Homo sapiens: one gene and its partner. The protein of the gene in region 1 interacts with the protein of each later gene in a pairwise test. Each region holds a gene or a part of one and is shown in the gene's direction. Other genes may lie near its edges.

Region 1 (7,598 bases):
CATAACCTAACCTTTCTAGAAAGATACACTCCTCTATCCAGCATGCCTAGAGTCTTATGTGTGACAAGTGACGGTATGCTGTTTCACAAAATTTCGCTGAAAGAGCCGTTGATGAACTTTAGAATAACCCAACATTAGGCGCTGTTACAAATGGGTGGAATTAGACAAAGCCGTTTGCCTTTCACCTCTTGCTTCAGTTTTCAGAAAATTGCCCAAAGGTATTGCAAACCATTTGCGTTTTCATTGGCTTGGTTAAGGAGTTGGCAGTGTCAACTGGCCCTGTGTAAAGCCACGTCACTGTTTCTGTAGAGAGCATGACACGTCAGAGAGGTGGGAAGTGTTGCCAGGACTCTTCTTAGAATGCTGGCAAGAAGAGCAGGCGAAAAGGGAAGAGCTGTTTATAAACAGGGAAAGGAGACATCACCTCGTATCCTTGGCTTCTCATTACGTCATCGATTACAATCACAAGTCTCATTTCCTACAAGCCTGAAAGCGGGTTCTTCTCTGCATGTAGGAAAAAGCCCCGCTTACTAACTCTGCCCTCAAAGAGATCACAAGCTGGTCCTGAACGCCCTGTGCCCTGGGAATGCTTACTGTCGAAGCTCTGCAAATTTTCTCATTGAAGGCACTCAGGGCATTCTGCTAATTAAATTAGGAAAATGTGTACAGCTCTACTTGAAAAAATCCAGGTTTATGCTCTGTATTCTATTACCAAAGAATTTATCACTTTTCAAATAACATTCAATTATTTTAAACTGAGTGTGCAGTGAGAGCATTTATAATATAATCTCATTTCCAGAGTGTTCCATCCCAACTCCTCTCTGGTATAAGTAGCTTAGAAGGTTAGATTTTTTTTTTCCAGAGGATTAAACATTCGAGAAGAGTGGCTAAGAGGCAGCACCAGGTTTCTCTCATTTCCTCAAAGAGAATTTAGCCTTGTGAAGAAGAATAAAGTGAAGGTCAATGGTTAGATCCATGGCTTAAAAATAAAATGCAGCTTTCCTTACTCTGAATTTACCATAACCAAAAAGGCCACGAGGCAGCCATTAATGATCCTAAGTTGCAACAGAAAGAAAAAAACACCTACTTAGGGTTAAACGAGGATTCAGTGGTCACTTGCCGCCGGCCTCCACTTCACAGGGGCGGAGGATGAGGCCAGGGAAGACTTTCTTACCCACACTGACCTGACCAGAGATGAAACTCCCCCTCCTATGACAGCCTGCACTCAGAGGCTGATTCTGAAATAGTCATGCCAAATGCAGCCAATCCCTGTGTACAAGGAGAAAAAATAGTTCCTCAGAGCTGTGTCCTTGGGCCAGCCATCTGGACCTCTCACAATCTCTTTCGTTCTCCCTACACTTGGGCTGAATCCCGCCTTCCTTGCCTGCCAGGTTTGGTTTGGGGGCCAAATGAGTGAAAGTCCGTGAGATACCCCTAAGTATTGAAGTGCGTAGTAAATGATAATAGCCCTGATTTGTTGAACATGATGATGTGCCAGGCATTGCGCAAAGCATCATTTCATCATCACAACAAACACTGCTGGGAGGCAGGGACACCCCCACCCTCCTTGTACACCCAGAAGTAGGACTTTGGTTAAATGGCTCTCCCAAGGCCTCACAGCCTTAAAAACTCAAGCACTTATTTAATCCCCAATGATACTACCTTTTGGCCATGCAATGTGTCATGGCCAGTAATTAGATTTGCAAACACATATAACCAAAGAGGATTAGAAGAGACATATATTCTATATAAATTACATGAAAATAGCACTTTCAGTATTTTCCTGATTTTTTCTGGTAATTAAAAATGATTGCCCTTTATATTTCTTTATGGATACAGTTGCATTGTTTTTAGCCAATTGTAGCCCCCCCCTTTAAAGAGTGAATTAGTGGGAAAATAGTGTTATCCAAGATTTTAAGAATCTAGTGTGTGTGTTTGTGTGTGTAGGATGGGTTTTTCTGAAATATTTTACTTGCATGTGAATGTATAATTTTAAAGATTGGCTTTTAAAATACTGAATTGAGGTAAATTCAGCTTTTCTTGCAGACTCTTTACGATAAATGTGAAATTGAAAATGGAAATGCTCCATTCAGATGGTGTGCCGACTACAACCTCAACATACGGATAATTCACTAAATAAGTAACTTCCTCGTGGAATATCACGGTCAGCCTTTGTTTTGGGTACACATTCAATGAACTGGTTTCCTATTAGTTTCTGCTTGTCAACAAGTTGTGTCATTTACTGATAAATATCCAGCCTTTTACTAAGGAATACCGATTTTCTCAAGTCTCAGTGTGTGGAGGGGGTGGGAGTTTGGTGGGGAAGCTTTTCAATTTGAGAACCTTTGCCGTTTTTTGTTTCAATCGTGACTAAGATATAAAAGTCCTTGGTCACCACTGCCAGCTGCTACCTGTTCACTGCCTCCCTGACGGGTAATGAGGCCATCCGGAGTTTTAGTGATTAAAATGTTTTATTACTTGTATTCACATCATCATTAAGAAAAATAACTTCTAGTGGATCAATATGGCAAATGAGTAAACCAGAAGATGGCGTTGAAGATTAGCAATTACATTTAAAAACAAGGTAGTGGTGTGAAGGCTCAGAGTTTCACACAACGACTGTTGTTCTGAACTAAAAGCAGAGGATGTGGATGAGTGAGGGGAGGGTATGTTGAAAATGACTAAACCCGGTGCAGAGGACACGTATACGAAAGTGCAAAAAGCTCTCATTTGCCATTTTTTGTCCTCAGCAAACTCCTCTCTGGTATGTTTGTGAACGTTTGAGGGAAAGGTAACACTGATTAAAATATAATGCAACAAGAAGGCAACGATCTTTGCTTTGTTCACTGATGTGTTCCAAGTGCCTAGGACGGTTCCTGACAAGTAGCAGGTGCTCAAAATACATTTGTCAAGTGAATAAATCTGTGAAAGGAAAGGAAGAAAAACAGGTTGTGACCAGAACTTTTTGTGAACAAAACCCTGTTGTTTATTACATAGACTTTGGTAATGGAAAACTTACTTGGGTGAAATAAAAAATGGCATCCTGTTAATTTCTGAGAACGTCTGTTGGTTTTAGGAAAAGCATACCTATCCATACCTCACTACCTGTTTTGCTCTAGCCTAAACATAGATTCTTCTTTGGTTAGGAGACATTGACCCAATATATAAGATTAAAACAAAAACTGAGAAATAAGTGAAATCAAAAGCTTTTCAAAAGTTGCAGGTTGACCTACGGTGGTGGTGGTCTAAAATCATATAGAAACCAGAGATCTGATGGTTTACCTGAAAATGCGAAGTAAATGCACATACTCAGCATCTCAGACGATCGAAAGCTCAACGGGTGAAAGCTCAGGGGGTTAATTTTGCGATTAAGGACATCTTGGAAAAGTATGTAAAATCCCTGGTCCACTTAAGTATTATTCCTATTTTGGGCTTTTATTTATTTATTTTGAGATGGAGTCTTGCTCTGTCGCCCACCTCGGCTCACTGCAACTTCAGCCTCCCGGGTTCAAGCGATTCTCGTGGCTCGTCCTCTCAAGTAGCTGGGGCCACGCCCGGCTAATTTTTGTATTTTTAGTAGAGATGGGGTTTCACCGTGTTGGCCAGGCTGGTCTCGAACTCCTGACCTCAGGCGATCCACCGCCTCGGCCTCCCAAAGTGCTGGGATTACAGGCTTGAGCCACAGCGCCTGGCCTATTTTGGGCTTTTATACCCCACTGGTAAACTGCTTTCCTCCAGGTTGAGGTTAAAACGACATCATTTTAAGGTGAACTGAAGTCTGGAAGTGATTAAGCACTTGGATCCTTAGGGAGCCTCTCCCCGCCCCCATCTCTTTCATGCTAAGATAATTAAAACTTCGGGGCCGGGGCATTGTCTGAGTCACTTCAATTCACCAGCCTAATAGATGCAAAAGGATGTAAGCATGTCAGACACGCAGAGACAGTATTTGAATCAAGCTTAATAGCTCAAGGGAGCTGGGCCATTTCCTATTTTCTTTTTAGTGAGTGCGATGTTCTCTAAACACCGCGGAGAGGCAGGGTTCCCGGTGATGGCCTTGCCGAGGGTGCTCCCGCAACCTCCACCTCCAGTTCTCTTTGGACCATTCCTCCGTCTTCCGTTACACGCTCTGCAAAGCGAAGTCCCCTTCGCACCAGATTCCCGCTACTACACGCCCCCCATTTCCCGCCCTGGCCACATCGCTGCAGTTTAGTGATTGACTGGCCTCCTGAGGTCCTGGCGCAAAGGCGAGATTCGCATTTCGCACCTCGCCCTTCGCGGGAAACGGCCCCAGTGACAGTCCCCGAAGCGGCGCGCGCCCGGCTGGAGGTGCGCTCTCCGGGCGCGGCGCGCGGAGGGTCGCCAAGGGCGCGGGAACCCCACCCCGGCCGCGGCAGCCCCCAGCCTTCACGCCGGCCCTGAGGCTCGCCCGCCCGGCCGGCCCCGGCTCTCGGCTTGCAAAGTCCCTCTCCCCAGTCCAACCCCCGGCCCCCACAGGCCTCGGCGCCCCGCCCCGCCCCAGGCCCCGCCCCAGAGAGTTCTATAAAGTTCCTCTTTCCCACCTCGCACTCTCAGTTTCACCGCTCGATCTTGGGACCCACCGCTGCCCTCAGCTCCGAGTCCAGGGCGAGGTAAGGGCTGGAGTCGGGCAGGAGGAGGGGTGTGAGGCTGATACCAGAGAGGACCCGGAGCGCGAACCAGAGGTTCGACCTCCAGGGCAGCGCAGGGTACCCCGGCTTCGGAGCGGGAAGGGAGCGCGCCCCGTCCTGGAGCTCCGACTCCCACCCCATCTGCGCTGAGCCGGAGGCGCTGGTTTGGGCTCCAAGGCCCGCCTCCTTGGCTCTGCCCGAGCCTCCCCGCCTGCCCTCCGCGCTCCTGCGACGGGGTCGCCACAAGCTGGACGGGATGAGCTAACCGGACTGTCGGGGCCCCAGGAGTGGCTGAGGCGGGGCCGTCCAAGGCACCCACACAAGACGGCACAACTGCCTGCGAGAAACAGGCCCGGCCCTGTGGACCCCAATCCGAGGCTCCTTCCCCTGCTCTTCGTTCCTAAGGGGCCCAAGCTCACGGCGGCCTCCGGCGCGGTGCTCACCCGCTGGCGCAGGAGGAGGAGGAGCTCCACATTTGGGTCGCTCCGAGCCTTGCGTGCGGTGGCCTAGCCGGCCTGGCGCGGTCCCTGCCTCCCAGGCTCCGCAGCTGTCGTCGCCCTCTCCCGCGCCCTCCCCGCCTCCGCTCTCCCGGGCCTGCTCCGGGGTCCGGCGGACGCTCTGCGCGCGGAATCCCCCGTACTGGGGCTGCAGCCCCCGCGTCTGCGCCACTTGTCGTTTGCAGAGCCCACTTAGTGCGCGCTAGCTGGGCAGGGATAGGGGTCCTATTCGGGGCGAAGGGTCTGGATGCGAGCAGAGAAAGCGGAGGGTGGAGGAACCCGGGGCTGCGCCCCTGGAACGCCCGGCCGCAGGCGAGGTCCTCCGCGCGTGGAGGCCGCCAGGGGAGTGGAAACTGACAGAGTCGCGGGGAAGGGGCGAGAAGCGGGTTGGGAGTGAGCGAAGGCAAGCGAGAGCTGCGAGTGAGTGCGGAAGGAGGGCCAGGAGGGGTGGCGGCTGGGTGGGGAGAGAGGGTGCAAGACGAGCGGCGCGTGTCGGGAGCCTTTGGGCTGCGGGTGCGTTACAGGAGAGCAGGCGGGTAGGAGCCTTCGCGGGGGCCGAGCTCGGAAGGCGGACGGCTGTGCCCGCCCAGGGGATGCGCCCGGGCCGGCCGCGAAGGTGCCTTCTTCCGGGGGCCCGGACGACCCTGACACGGCACGCGCGCGCTTCGCAGCCTCAAAGACTCCGGGGCCTCGTGGTCACTGGCGCAGGGGATCGGGGCGGGGTGCCCGGAGTGCGGTGCCTCGTGGCTGAAGGGCAGCTCTTCTCCCCGCAGTGCAGAGCAGAGCGGGCGGAGGACCCCGGGCGCGGGCGCGGACGGCACGCGGGGCATGAACCTGGAGGGCGGCGGCCGAGGCGGAGAGTTCGGCATGAGCGCGGTGAGCTGCGGCAACGGGAAGCTCCGCCAGTGGCTGATCGACCAGATCGACAGCGGCAAGTACCCCGGGCTGGTGTGGGAGAACGAGGAGAAGAGCATCTTCCGCATCCCCTGGAAGCACGCGGGCAAGCAGGACTACAACCGCGAGGAGGACGCCGCGCTCTTCAAGGTCTCCGGCCTCGGGAGCCGGCGGGGGCGCGCCGGGGAGGGCCCAGAGACAGAGCCCGGGGTCCCCGGCGCCGCCTCCGAGGCGAGCCCAGGGGACCGCGCGGGGCGGACGGGCGGGCGGCGGAGGCATCAGGTGGCGTCGCCGGAGCCGCAGGAGGAGGAAAGGAGGCCTCGGCTCTCAGCGGGACCGCGGGGGCCGGGAGCCGGGTCCTGGGCGCGTGGAGGCTGCAGGGAAACCGCTGAAGGCCCGGCCGGGCCCGGGGAAGGGCGGCCAAAGGCTTGAGGGGTTTTGCGCGTTCGTCCGTGCGTTCTCGTTTCCACGCAAGCCTCCCGCCCTTCCTCCGGGCTCCCGTCTGCCGCCTCCGTCCGTGGGTCCCCCTCGCCCTCTCCGTGCGTCCGCGCCTGTGCCGGCGGCTGTTTTCGTCTCTCACCGCGTCTCTGTTTCTCTTTTCGCTGCTTTTCTCTCTGAGTCTCTCTCTCTCCATGTTTTTCCTGAGGTCAGCCTCTCTTCTCGCTCCTGCTAGCTCTCTGCGGGTACTCCCACCTCTGTCTTTCTCTTTGTGTGTCTCTGTCTCTCTCTTTCCCCCATCGCAGTGGAACTCAGGGCCTCTGTCTAGAGCTGTCTCCCTTGCCCTTTGCGCGAGTGCACACACGTGTGTCGTTGTTACGATTGTTCTCCCCTAAGGCAGTTTACCCAGAGAACTACGTGTCTGGGCCCAGCCCCCACCTGTGGGCAGAGCAGGGGAAGGGGACTTCCTCCGGGAATTTGGTCTCAATTTGCTCTCAGAGTGCCTCAGCTGTGCTGCCATCCAGATGTCTCCTGTGGGTGACAGCTCACACCACAGCTGTCCTTAGTCCTAGGCAAGCTCACTCAGACACTGGGTGGGTAGAGCCCCCTCAAGGAACCTCCGCATCTCACTCTACCGGTTATAAATACCCAGAAAATGTGTCTTCAACTTGGCAGTGATAGGGTCCAAGATGGAAAATCATTTTCCTAGAGCATAGCTGGGGTCTTTCAGTTTACGTTCTGAGCAACGGTGTAAATCTGAAGGACCTATGCGCCATTCTTTCTTTTAGAAATACAATTTCAAGATTCCTTATAAAATATCTGTATTTTGGGTTTAGCATGGTGGCTCACACCTGTAATCCCAGCACTTTGGGAAGATGAGGTGGAAGGATGCCTATGCAACATAGTGAGACCCTGCCTCTGCAAAAAATAATAATTAAAAAAATTAGCCAGGCATGGTGGTGAACACCTGTAGGCCGAGGGCCCAGCTACTCTAGAGGCTGAGATAGGAGGACCCTAGAACTCAGGAGTTCGATGCTGCGGTGAGCTATCATCGTGCCACTGTACTCTAGCCTGGGCAGCAGAGCAGGACTCTGATTCCAAAAAGAAAGCTAATAAACCAGAC
Region 2 (7,000 bases), on another chromosome or scaffold:
TTTTTTCCTTTAAATTTTTTTTTTGTTTCTTCTTTTTCTATTGGTCCATTGGGAGAAGAAACCTCTCTTCTTTCAAGACATGATTCTTTCCCTTTTTTTGTGACTTTGATGAAACCACTTACTCCTCTTTACTCTTTTTGTAGAGCCTACTGTTTTTTCTTCCTTGTAACTTTGTCTTTCCCATCTGTACATTTCACATATTCCCTTTTCTTGGAGTTAGAACTCTCTCATAAAGACTCTCTTATAAGAATAATGGATGACAAGTACATTTATTTTGCTTCGGGAAATTCTATAAGAAGGCCTACGTTTTATCAAATTTCTATAACAATTGTATATAGTTTTGTGATAGAAACTACATTAGCCTTCACAGTAATCTGTTGGGATGCTTTCTGTGTATATGTATGTTTCCCTGTTCATTGTATTGTAGAAATAGAGCTGAGGTCAAAGGCTGGAAAGTCATCAGGAGAAAAAATTGGTTGTGGAAGGGCAACACTTCGCCTGAGATCAAAAGGTCCTGCCACCGTGGAAGAAATGGTATGTTATGTTCATTTACTTCCTGTTCTGCTTGGAAATGTTGAGTTAGATAAAATTCCATTCATTCTAACCAAAACTTGGACTTTTAATTCACTGTCTATTTAAACAATCTGGAAATTACTGAAGGTATTTAAAAAGGAAATATAGAAATTAAGGACATGAGAAGAGATTGTGATCTATAGAAATTCTCAGTTACCTGTAGGTGACGTTTCTAGACTCTATAGACAGCTGGACTCTCTCAAAAACTTAAGTCAACCAAAGCTCTCTGAGAACCAAGAAAATGTTTCAGAGCCACCTGTAGGAGTAAACAAAAGAAGATATTGATAATGAAAGATTATATTCGTAAACTCCTCTTCTCACATAAAACACCTGTAGTCATCTTTGACTCTTTTCGTTCATGTCCCATGTCGCTTCCATCAGCAGATCCTAGTGGATCTACCTCTATAAGATACTGGAGTCCAATGACTTCTTACCACCCCTGCCCACCACTGTGCCCCAAGGCACCATCATCTTATCCTGGATTTTGCAATCACCTTCTGTTTAGTCCACCTGTGTTCACCCTTGCCTTCTTTCCACCTGTGCTCAGCACAACCCTCAGAATGATCCTTAAAATATGCAAGAGAAATTATGTCACTTTTCTGTTCACAACCCTCCAGTGGCTTCCCATGACACTCAGAATAAAACCTAAAGTCCTCAGAATGACCAACATGACCGAACTCCGTATTTCTTCTCTGTTCTCATTTCCCATCCCTTTGCCGTGGCTTCCTCTGCTTCAGTCATGCTGATCTCCTTGCTGTTCCCAAACACTCCAGGTGTATCCCCATCTCAGGCTCTCAGTACTGCTGTTGTCTCTGCCTGAATGTTTTGCCCATTTATCTGCATAGCTTGCTCCCTTGCCATCATTAGGTTTCTGCCCACACATTATCTATCTCAAAGGCCTTTCCCGAGCATCCTGTATAAACAGCAACTCCCTCCACCCCTCCCACTGCCCACTCTTCCATGTCCTTAATTTTTGTCAAAGCAATTGTATTAGTCTGTTTTCACACTGCTAATAAAGACATACTTGAGACTGGGTAATTTATAAAGAAAAAGAGGTTTAACGGACTCACAGTTCCACATGTCTGGGGAGGCCTCACAATCATGGTGGAAGGTGAATGAGGAGCAAAGGCACGTCTTACATGGCAGTAGGCAAGAAAGCATGTACAGGGGAACTGCTCTTTATAAAACCGTCAGATCTTGTGAGACTTATTCACTATCATGAGAACAACGGCATGGGAAAAACCTGCCGCCATGATTCAGTTACCTCCCACCGGGTCCCTCCCACAACATGTGGGGATTATGGGAGCTACAATTCAAGATGAGATTTGGGTGGGGACACAGCCAAACCATATCAGCACTAAACACACTAGGACTCTATATCTTTGATTAATTTTGTCTACTGTCTAGCTCCTTTGCTCACATGTCTTGTTCACTGCTGCATCCCCAGCACCTAGAATAGGACCTGATATACCAAAGGAATGGAAATCTTTGGTGCATTAATGAATTAGTAAACGATTCCTTTTAGTTTGAGAAAAGCAAGGATTTTTCCCTTTGAATGACTTTGTCTATATATAGGTCAGTGTTTGAGTGAAAAACACCAGAAGGAGAAGTGACAACTAGAGGCAAGAAGGGTGGAGGAAGAAAACTGCAAGTTTGGGGTGGCGATGGTAAGGATTCCAAGTGGCAAGCAGCAGGCCCACAACAGCAGCAAAGGCATGGGGGTCAAAGCCCTCCCGTGGGCAGATGGGATGTCGAGCAGGTGACTGATGCCTGTGAGCTCGGGGGGGCAGGGGCAAGGCTCTGGGCCCTTCTAGGGTCTCTCTGTATGTGAATGCTGTCTGGGTTCCTATGTGTTTGAAGGGAAAAACAGACAGATGAACAGTTTTGAGGCTGTTTCACAGAGTGGGATCTCAGAACTTGTTGGGTGACAAGGTCCAGGGTTGGTCATGGGGGTGGTTTGTTGAAGTAGACACTTAAGGAACACATGAGGCCAAGGCTGTCCTTAGGAATGTCGAGGCACCCACGGTGTTGTCAGTTTTGGGGGGATCTAGAGGAAGATCCTGAGTCAAATGCGTGGGTTCTGGGAGAATGAAAGGACCGATCAGAGGCAAATGGCAACGAAGAGATCTGATAGAGCAAAAAGTGTTTTGAAAAGGAGATATGATGAGGTATGTGAAGGAAACCCAGGGCAGTGACTTCTGGGCATTTGGAGCCTTTATTTTCCCTCTGTGGCCCAGCACACTGCCTGGTATATTGCTGAAGGCCAGTAAGTGTTTATTGAATGAATAAGCAAATCTCAGTGGAAGAAAGGAATTTATCAGAGAAGGGAAGAACAGAGGGAAGTTGCTGGCTGTGAGGAGCCAGGAGAATGTCAGCTCTGCCTTTTGCTGGAGGCTGTGAGGAAAAATGAGCAGACCTTTAAACAGCTCACAAAGGAAGCAGGTCAGCAGGAAAAATGCCACGTCCCTTCAGGAGGAGGAGCATCTTCTAAGGGTTAAATCATTCGTCACTCTTTGTTAAGCACCTGCTGTGGCAAAGGTGCCTGAATGGAAAAGGAGCAGCTTAAGATCTACCTGGGGAGGTAGGAAAGATTCATTCAAAGATAAACATCTAAAAATCTATTCCTATTTTCATAGTCTGTTTAGTAAAATAGGGCAATTAAAAATAGCTCATAATGAAAGGAAAAAGCTGTTTGGTGCTAATATTAAATTTGATACAAATGACATAAAATCTAATTTCAAACACTTTAAGAATTTAAAGGACTTATGGGATTTAAAACAAATCACTCCTTTAATCACCTAGCACAAATTCTGAAAATGGTGTAAGATTCTCTGTATTAGTCCGTTTTCACACTGCTGTAAAGAATACCTGAGACTGGGTAATTTATAAAGTAAAGAGGTTTAATTGACTCACATTTCCGCATGGCTGGGAGACCTCAAGAAACTTACAGTCATGGCAGAAGGTGAAGGGGAAGCAAGGCACGTCTTACATGGTGGCAGGAGAGAGTGAGTGTGCAGGAGAAACTGTCGCTTTTGAAACCATGAGATCTTGTGAGAACTCCCTCACTATCACGAGAACAGCCTGGGGGAAACCACCTCATGATGCAATCACCTCCCACCAGGTCCCTCCCTTGACACGTGGGGATTGCAATTCAAGATGGGATTTGGGTGGGCACACAGAGCCAAACCATATCAATTCTCCACTTGCATAACCTCATACTTTATTCAATATGTGCTTGCTGAGACAGGCACAGTCTAAGTGCTGGTGATACAAAGAAGAATAAAAACCCTGTTTCTCTTCTAAAAGGAGAGAAGCATGAAAAGAAGCTATTACAACCCAGTGGGATAGGGTTAATGGAAGCAGGTGCAGGATACACAGTGTCACAAAGAAGGGGCTGATCAGCCATTGACAGGGATTGGGGAAAGAAAGGAGGTCAGAAGGCTGGGTGCAGTAGCTCACGCCTGTAATCCCAGAACTTTGGAAGACTGATGTGGGTGGGTTACCTGAGGTCAGGAGTTCGAGACTAGCCTGGCCAATGTGATGAAACCCCATCTCTACTAAAAACATAAAAATTAGCTGGGCATGGTGCTGGGCACCTGTAATCCCAGCTACTTGGGAGGCTGAGGCAGGAGAATCACTTGAGCCCAGGAGGCGGAGGTTGCAGCGAGCCGAGATTATGCCATTGCACTCCAGCCTGGGTGACAGAGTGAGACTCCATCTCAAAAAAAAAAAAAAAAAAAGGGTCAGGAAGTGTTTCTCTCCGGAAGAAATTAGTGAGTGAGTTCAAAATGGGGAAGAAGAGTGTTCTAGGCATGGAACAATAATGGGTTTTGGGGACCTGTAAGCTGTTCATGAGATTGGAGTGTGGGGTGCTGGAAGTACTGGTTAGGTAGGGGTGATGAGGCTAGAGGCATAGGCTGGGGTTAGGATATGAAGGGCCTTGTGGATAATGAGGGAGCCATTTAAGAATTATGAGGGGAGTAACACAATCAGTTTTGTGTTTTAGAAAAATCCCTTGGTTCCAGGGTATGGGTTGTTGAGCAGCTTGGATTTGAGAGGGTGAAGACCAAAGGCAGGGAGACAAAATAGGAAACCTCTGCAAATCAGAAAAGATGAGGACTAAACACTGGCAAACAGAATGTGGATGGAGAAGAGGTGATAGATCCAGATCTGTTCCGTAGCAAATAGGAAATATTAGAATGGTAAAATATTGGTGGCCATTTGGGTATGAGGAGTACTGACACTTGTCACCGTAACTTAAAACGTGCCTGGATAGATATAAAGGTTAATACCTGTTAATTTGCATAGCCTGTTGCTTTATACAGACAATTCAAGATACATTGTAATGAAGGCAAGAGCAATATATTGTCTGTTATTGTTTTTAAGGTTTAGTTCTTGTAAATAAAAATGTGAGAAAGTTGTATTAATATCTTCAAGGAAATAGATTTTTATTTGCTATAAAATGCATGATTTTAATAAAATTTGAGACTACAAAACAACATATATTTATAACAGTATTGAAAGTAACATGAAATTCTTATAATCTAAATAATGAATTCTACATTTGCATGTATAGTTGAGTAGTTAACATCTTTGGGCAATTCCATTTTCAGCTATGATGCCATTTAAAGCCAAGTATTGAAATAAACTGAGCAGAATTTACCAAATATTAAACCAAAAATTTAAAATAATATTTTTACTGAAATGTTTAGTAATCATTTCGGGAAGAACAAAAATGTTTTGGTACCATTAATACATAACACAAAAATGATTTAAAAAGTATTATTTTATCATCTCATTCTTATAAAATTTCCTTTTTTGGTGTATTTTTATAATCTATACAATATATTAATATGGTAATACATGTGTAATTGATAAGCAATACATACAATAAAGTTAAAAATACACAATAAGGGTATTTGTTCAGAAAAGTTTTACTATTGGGATGAGCCATCAAACGTTTGGAGACCCTGGCCTGCACCATAAAGACCAAAGTCCTTTTCATGGTACACAGGACTCCTCAAGATCTAGTCATATTTGTCACTGTGTTCTCCAGCTACATGGGACTTCTGGCATCCCTCTAACATGACTCTGTGACCTTACTTAGACTTTGCCTATCTATTGCATCCTACTTGAAGTGTCCTCTCCTGCTTATCTCCTCTTCATCATTGAAAACACAGTTCTTGGCTGGGCGTGATGGCTCATGCCTGTAATTCCAGCACTTTAGGAGGCTGAGGTGGGCGGATCACTTGAGTCCAGGAATTGGAGACCAGCCTGGCCAACATGGTGAAACCCCGTCTCTACTAAAAAAATACAAAAAATTAGCTGGGCATGGTGGCGCACGCCTGTAATCCCAGCTACTTGGGAGGCAGAGGTTGCAGTGAGCTGAGATCACACCACTGCACTTCAGCCTGGGCAACAGAATGAGACTCTGTCTCAAACAAAACAAAACAAAACAAAGCAAGACAAAAAAACCCCGCCACAGTTCTTAAGACATCCTTCTTTTTCTCTGAGACAGGGTCTTGTCCTGTTGCCGGGTTGGAGGGCAGTGGCAGAATTATGGCTCACTACAGCCTCGTCATCCTGGGCTCAAGTGATCTTCCCACTTTAGCCTCCTGAGTGGCTGGGACTAAAGGTGCATACCACCACACCTGGTTACTTTTAAATTAAATTAATTAATTAGTAGAGATAGAATCTTGCCATGTTGCCCAGGCTTGTCTAGACCTCTCAGGTTCAAGTGATCCTCCTGTTTCAGCCTCCCAAGTGTCTGGGATTACAAGCATGTGCTACCACACCCAGCTAATTATTTTAATTAATTAATTAATTTTTTTTGTAGAGATGGAGTCTCACCATGTTGCCTGGGCTGGTCTTGAACTCCTAGGCTGAAGCAACTCTCCCACCGTGGCCTTCCAAAGTGCTGGGATTACAGGTGTGAGCCACTGTGCTCAGCCAAGTCACCTTCTTTCTAAAGTCTTCCATGACTGTTAGAGATATAAATTTGCTTCCTCCCCTGTGATGCTTCTGTGCCTTTTATATCCTTTAAAAACTGTTACATGTTATTTATTTTCACATCTGTTTCCTCTTCTAGATTGTTAGCTACTTGGGGATTGTGTTCCTGGCTTTTCTTTTTTGAATCCGTAACACTTAGTGCTGACACTAGAAATAAGTATTTACTGTATTGATTTGTATTTAGTTACAGAGCACATTCTAGATCTATTTCCATTAAAATTAGCTGAAATACACAATTATGAACCGGCTCCACATCAGGCTTTCTCTTGTGTATGCCCTGACAATCAAGAGATTTTGTTGTATAATATCTTATTTCTCTCTTTTTTGATAAAGCCTTCTGAAACCAAAGCAAAGGCAATTGAAAAGATTGATGATGTTCTTGAGTTGTACATGGGAATTCGAGATATTGATTTAGGTA

The links. The genes of interacting proteins can lie anywhere in the genome.
Region 2: the proteins of IRF4 (region 1) and GIPC2 interact in binary tests that used the Homo sapiens proteins (3 or more experiments, as listed by UniProt).

The regions. Positions count from the first base shown.
Region 1 is NC_000006.12:387,182-394,779, forward strand, and holds the start of IRF4 (interferon regulatory factor 4), read left to right. Parts: upstream 1-4,570; 5' UTR 4,571-4,628; intron 4,629-5,916; 5' UTR 5,917-5,971; coding exon 5,972-6,187; intron 6,188-7,598. UniProt on the Homo sapiens protein: Transcriptional activator. Binds to the interferon-stimulated response element (ISRE) of the MHC class I promoter. Binds the immunoglobulin lambda light chain enhancer, together with PU.1.
Region 2 is NC_000001.11:78,118,966-78,125,965, forward strand, and holds part of GIPC2 (PDZ domain-containing protein GIPC2), read left to right. Parts: intron 1-427; coding exon 428-534; intron 535-6,915; coding exon 6,916-6,997; intron 6,998-7,000.